2 linked regions of the Homo sapiens genome follow. The protein of the gene in region 1 interacts with the protein of each later gene in a pairwise test. Each region holds a gene or a part of one and is shown on either strand. Other genes may lie near its edges.

Region 1 (3,180 bases):
GCCTGCTCAGAGTTCAGTTCAAAAGTCACTCTCGCTTAACCCTCAGGCTGGATCCCCATTCAGAACGTGGTGTATTTTTCCATATGCACTACCCCATCCCAGGATGTTCCTACAAGGAAATGAAGGCAGCAACCAAGCCTCCCACCCCCACCTGCCCTCCATGGTTTCCATCTGGTACGTACGTTGTCAAGGCCAAAGCTCTGCAAGTCATGGACTAGGAGAGAAGGGAGAAGGCAAGGGAGAAGGCGTCATTAGTAGGAGCAGCACTGGCCTCCTCCTTCCTCCCCCTGGACTGCAAACCACCTGTCTTCTCTGCCCCTCATTCCTTCTCCAGCCTGGCACCTCCTGGTCCTGCTTAAGGACAGCCAGAAAGGGCAAGCCTTGGGCCTGTGTGAGAGTTCACGCCCTCCTCAGGAGTCTTTAGAACAGACCCTGGTTCCTCCCTGACGTCCACAGGGAACTCTATGCCTTGACTACCACCATGGCCCTGCCTGCATCTCCGGAAACAAAACCCACCGACTATGGGCTCTCACTAACTAGAGCTGATGGCAAATCACTGAACCTCAAAGTGAGGTGGGATCTGAGAATGCCATCCACACTTTCCCTGCCTCCACCCTCAAAGCTCCCCAGAAGAAATCCCATGGGGACCCTGTACCAACTGTTCCAGAACAATTTATTCCTGCCCTCTAGCCTCAATCCCTCCTGCTGCAAGGAACCATACTTCAAAGATACATCCCAGACCTTTTACAGTCACCCAGCAGCCAGGTCAGAGGAGACCCAATCACAGCCCCATCCAACCTCCCCGCCATTCTAGTAGGGCAGGCTGCCCCAGAAGTAGGGGTTTGGCCTCCATGGGGGCAGGGCCACTTACTCTCCACAGCATGTACTGCAGCATGGGGGAGGGAGGAGAGAGAAGAAAGATTCAGAGCTTCACAATGAGAACTATGAGAGCAAGATATGTTGCAGGAGGGAAGACTGGAACATTCAGCCTCAGCAACACAGTCTGGCCCCAGCTAACAAGCCTCCTTCTGGGCCCCTCCTCGAGAGTGAACTAATCTGGCCAGAGAGGAGCAAAATAGTGGCCTAGAAGGACAAGAGGCCTAGAGCTCAAAGAGCCAAGTTCCTGACTGTGTGGCCTTGGGCAAATCAGTTGCCCTTTCTGGGCCTCAGTGTTCTCCTTTGCAAAGGGCTGTCCTAAGGATCACGTGGGATCTAAGATGGAAAAATACTTGTAAACTTTACACTGTAAGAGATTATTACCCACCCCAGCCCCAATCAACAAGGATGTTAGAAACTCACTCCCAGGCCTCAATTCAGCCAGATCTCTGGCCTTGGGCAACTGTACCTTTGCATTTATACATCCTTCCAAATACAGAGCACCCCCGGCCCGGGGATCCACAAGTCTAACAGTCCCAGGCCAAGAGGCTGCCACTCTGGCTGTGTGTCTACTGAGTGCCCGCCAGACCTTGTGCCAACAGCTTGACACTGATCATCTTCCTGCCCTCCCAGCAAGACCCTTTTCTCCCAGCTTCCTCCAGAGTGAAGAGGGGGTCCCAGAGCTCTGCAGGGTCCTCCAGCCCCCACACTGGCCCCTCCCCAACACAGCCCCACCCCCACAGATTGCCCTGAAGACCAGCAGAGCTACCCTCCAGGGGGCCCTTTCTTCCTGTTCACTTCAACCATTTTGAGAGGCCATCTTCATACCCTGGGCTCTGTCACTGTGCAGCTCTGTCCATCCTTTACTGTGACACCAACTCCCACCTTCCCCAACCCTGCCTTCAACCCCTGGGTTCCTCTTCACTTTCTTGCTTCAGCCTGGCTCTTCCTTTCAGGCACTAACTCCCTGGCATCCCCTCAACGTGCGACTATCTTCTCTCCATACACAACCTCTTCCCTGGCCTAAAGAGAAGTCTTTCTTGCTCCTTACTGCCACTTCCAGATCACTTTCCCTTTATCTGCCTTAAAAATGCACAATGGCTCACATCTGTAATCCCAACATTTTGGGGGGCCAAGCGGGAGGATCACTTGAGCCCAGGAGCCTGGGCAACATGGCAAGACCCTGTCTCTGCAAAAAAAAAAAAAAAAATTAGCCAGGCATGGTGGCATGTGCCTGTGGTCTCAGCTCCTTGAGAGGCTGAGGTGGGAGGATCTCGAGTCCAGGAGGTCAAGGCTGCAGTGAGCCAAGATTGTGCCATGGCACTCCAGCCTCAAAAAAAAAAAAAAAAAAAAAAAAAAAATCCCCAGCTTTGAAGCTCAGGGCAAAGCAGCCCTGCTTGTTTCAGTCACCTAGATATCGATATGGAACCTCCAGAACAGTTTTCCCATGCCATTTTTCAACAGCTTGGGCAACTGCCTGTCACTCTCTCCTGTACTACCTCTGTCACACGTTCTAGTGATTTCCATATCCACGTAGATGATCCTTCCAGTACCCGGGCCTCCCAGTTCCTGGACATCCTTTCCTCCCTGATCTTGTGCTCTGCCTACCCAAGCCACTTGCTCTGTTGGCCATTCCCTAAACTTTGTCATTAACAAAGCCCCTTCTGTGACTTCAATTTCAAGCAACTCATGCTCCACCAGCTTTCTAATTTCCTCCAGTTCCCCAATTCCAATAACTTGTTGACACTACACTCAGGACTTGTAGTCCCTTTTTCCTCCTGCCCCCTCACTGGCTTCTCCACATCCTGTCTTTCCTCCTTTCCTAGCTCATATGCTGTGGTCCAGAATCAAGATGAGTTCTTTACATATTTGACTCCCTCACCTTTGCAGGCACCTGGCAACACCAAACCCCATGCAATTGCAATGTTCTGTTGACTGAGTCCATTCCCACACAGACAACCATGCTGACCGCTCTCTTTGCATTCACAGCCGCGGACTCCAGGGAGGCCCTAGGGCTGCATCAATCCTACTCAATCTCCCCAGTCCACGCACTCTTCCACCCCCAAGTGACCAGTCACATCTTTTCTTCTTTCAAATCTCCAACACCTCCTTCCCTCTCTCCTCATTCTCAACTGAGGACCTTCCTTCCTACAACACGGAGAAGATGGGAAGACTCAGAAGAGACTCTCCATGTACTTCTGCCACACCAGCTACCACCCTACCTGTACCTACAGAGCCTGCCCTTCCTCCTGGTGCTAAGTTTGGACTTTCCACATATGTAAGGCACTAGATTCTGTCTTCTTT
Region 2 (3,334 bases), on another chromosome or scaffold:
TTTATTGAGTGGACACCTACTGTGTCAGGCACTGTAATTGGTGTTTTACAAACATTATTACTATTACGCACAACCCTACAAGACAGATATCGTTCCCACTTCACAGCTGAAAAAAGATTACAGTCTGACTACCCCTTCTCTGAAATGCTTGGGACCAGAAGTGTTTTGGATTTTGGAATATTTGCATTATATTCCAAAACCCAAAATGCTCCAATGAGCATTTCCTTTGAGTGTCACGTCAGTCATCAAAAAGTTTCAGATTTTGAAATTAGGGATACTAAACCTGTACTACTGAAGGTCTTGCAGCTAGTAAATGGCAGGGTATGATCTGAACCAGACACAAGTGGTGATTAAGTCAGGTCATTATTAGAAGTCACCTTACAGAGAAAACAATCAACATGAGATACATTCTGTCACAATGCTTATGCTGCTTAGATTTAATGTAGACATATTGGCATTTGAAAGTGCAAATACTGTCTTTATAAGGTCTTTGAAGAACAGAGTTAGCCCTTGTTATTGCTACAGTTAATTCAAAGTGCTAATAGCTAAAAACCAGAAGTTATTCCAAAGTTCGCATGAACAAAACTCACAAGAAAGTTATAAAAATATTTTATTTAAATGATACAGAAAAAAATGTATACTTAAAAGTGATTAAAACTTCACATTAGGAAATGCTAAAAACCCAGTAATGTACATAATGATAAAATCTAAAGTGATGAGAAAACATAAAATATTTTCATTTGGTCCTGTCACCTAACAAAACTATCATAAATATGAGATTATAGTAATTACTAAAGCTGGTTAAAGGCACATGACAACATAATTCCTTTATACACATCCAGTCATTTTATACAAGGAACTGCTATCCCTTAAATGGAAGAGTGAACTACTTGTTTAAAATATTAACAGTGCACTATGTACCTACAATGAAACCACTTTCTCCAAAGACTCAAACAGATTAACATTGCAAAATAGTACTTCTGTATCACTGACTTCTGAAAATTTTAATAATTTATGCATATGCAAGTGAAATATAATTTATTCTGGTTTCAACAACAGTTATACAAAGTCACAATTTTCCCCAGGAAACCATTCACTTCATAGCTGCAAAAACACACTGTAGCTTTTCTGTTAGGGTCTGCCATGCTTTCAGCTAGCTGGATGTTTAACCATTCACTTCAAATTTACATGTCCAGCCAGGCACGGTGGCGTGGGCCTGTAGTCCCAACTACTTCGAAGGCTGAGGCAGGAGGATCACTTGATCCCAGGAGTTCAAAGACAGCCTGGGCAACATAGAAGACCCTGTCTCTTAAAAAAAAAAAAAAAAAAAAGTGTATGTCCTTAAATCTGAAAGAAAACCAGCATTTATGTACCAAGTAAAACATTGTATCTCAAGCTATTGCATTTAACACTAAAAAGCATAGTTCACTCTGTAATCTACAACATTGTCTGAGTCTCCATTACCAATTATAACTTCATGTCAGAGTAAGAGCTCCCAAACATCTGTAAAAACTCAAAATTCAAGAGTCAAAGAAGGGGCTGAGAACACGAGAAGGGGAGATGGGTGACAGGGTCAGGTGAGGAAGTGTTCTGAGATGTGTAGGATTCCTCCGGGCCCAAAGCCGCTTGTGGCACCACAGGTGTACAGGAATGAAGGGCCTCCTGTGAGGGTTCCCAGTGGTCCCAAGACACAGCAAGGTGCCTGAAGGAGGCTGGAGACATTGGCGTGGGCATGGAGGTGCTAGCAACTATTTTCAGACTGCTAACAATGAGAGTATGTCCATTTCTTCTTTACACAGTTACCACTGACCTTCCTTTAAAATCCCACAGGGAGAACATGCTGTTTTTAGCAGAAATGTCAGTTTTCATTAACTCCTTGAAAATTTAGCGTATTAACTTTTATTTCCATGAGCTTCAGTTTCCACACCTGTCAACTGCTGTATAAAGCAGGTTTCCTGCAAGTTCTGATGTAAGTGACCTGACAGGAGGCACTATCTTTGTCCTTCTCACCATGCCCCTAAGCATCTGGAGTGAGTATTCTCAATATACACTTATTTAATAACAGAGTTATCCGACACTCAGAAAACAGCCTCCACTGTGTAAGGCAGCAGATCTCAGGATGGGGTGATCTGTAGGGAGGCAGAAATTCTATAAATAACACCAAACGAAAGCTGATTGTGTCATCCAACACATTTTTATGAGGAAGTCAGAATAATTAGAAGATGGCAGAATTTTTTTTCCCAATTAGGTAAAATTGTTCATTCTTCCTGTATTCCCATTTCTTAAGAATGATCCAGCCAACAGTCACTGAATATAAGCTGACACAAATTAATATAATTTCAACATAAAATGGTCTAATGTGTGAATTCAACTATATTGGAAGGTACAAATCCTGTCTTTATGAGGTCTTTGAAAGGCAGGGTACCTTCTCTAAAAAGTAGTCACTTAGAACCAACTTTTACAAAAGAAAGAGTCTCAGCCCCCAACCCCCGCCAGCCTGGGCAACATAAGGAGACTCTGTTTCTACAAAAAAATTTTTAAAAATTAGCCAAGCATGGTAGCACATGCTTATAATACCAGCTACTTGGGAAACTGAGGTGGGAGGATTGCTTGAGCCCCCAAGTGGTCAAGGCTGCAGTGAGCTGTGATCATGCCACCGTACTCCAGCCTGGACAACAGAGTGAGAAGCTGTCTCAAAACAAAAAGGAGTCTATCTCAGAGTTCAATGAATGGATAATTCTAGTGTGGACAACTCTGGTGTAAACATGACTGAAAATAATTCACAAATAGTCTGTTACAGCTCCATCCACTGAAAATTGTCATAAAAGACATTTTTCAAACGAGTTCATTTTTAGAAAAACCACTCCAGATATCTTACCTTCGGAAATCATCCAAGGAGTGTGATAAACATGACAACCCCCATAAACTGGGTAAACAACAACAATGGAGTGAAAAACGACCACACATGCCATAAAGCAATGTTGAAGCTGAAAAGAACAAGACATAAACAGTTGACAACTCCAATATGCATCAATATATTTTATTCTAGAATCCAGATTTAAAGTATTCAATGTAGAAAAGTTCATCCAGTCAGCAACTTTCTCTATGTATCATATTTCTCAAGTATGTGACTTAGCCAATGCTGGAAAGGAAAACTCTAGATATACTTAAACAAGTATCACAATTTCTTCAAGAAGGCCCTGGAACTGGAACCACTAAAGGTCTCCTAATAGGGGTTGACATGGCTTAATAGAAACTGAAGTCTCTTAGTTTCTGACTTCAACAATAATTTAAATGGCTACAGCCCATTTTTATGACATCACACACTAAACTA

Evidence for each region. Proteins that work in one complex are often made in the same cells at the same time.
Region 2: the proteins of ERGIC3 (region 1) and TMEM128 interact in binary tests that used the Homo sapiens proteins (3 or more experiments, as listed by UniProt).

The regions. Positions count from the first base shown.
Region 1 is NC_000020.11:35,552,078-35,555,257, reverse strand, and holds part of ERGIC3 (endoplasmic reticulum-Golgi intermediate compartment protein 3), read right to left. Parts: intron 887-3,180; coding exon of another isoform or gene 872-886; intron 215-871; coding exon 183-214; intron 1-182. UniProt on the Homo sapiens protein: Possible role in transport between endoplasmic reticulum and Golgi. Positively regulates trafficking of the secretory proteins SERPINA1/alpha1-antitrypsin and HP/haptoglobin.
Region 2 is NC_000004.12:4,234,949-4,238,282, forward strand, and holds the end of TMEM128 (transmembrane protein 128), read right to left. Parts: intron 2,988-3,334; coding exon 2,888-2,987; 3' UTR 2,879-2,887; intron 2,130-2,878; exon of another isoform or gene 1,309-2,129; 3' UTR 594-1,308; downstream 1-593.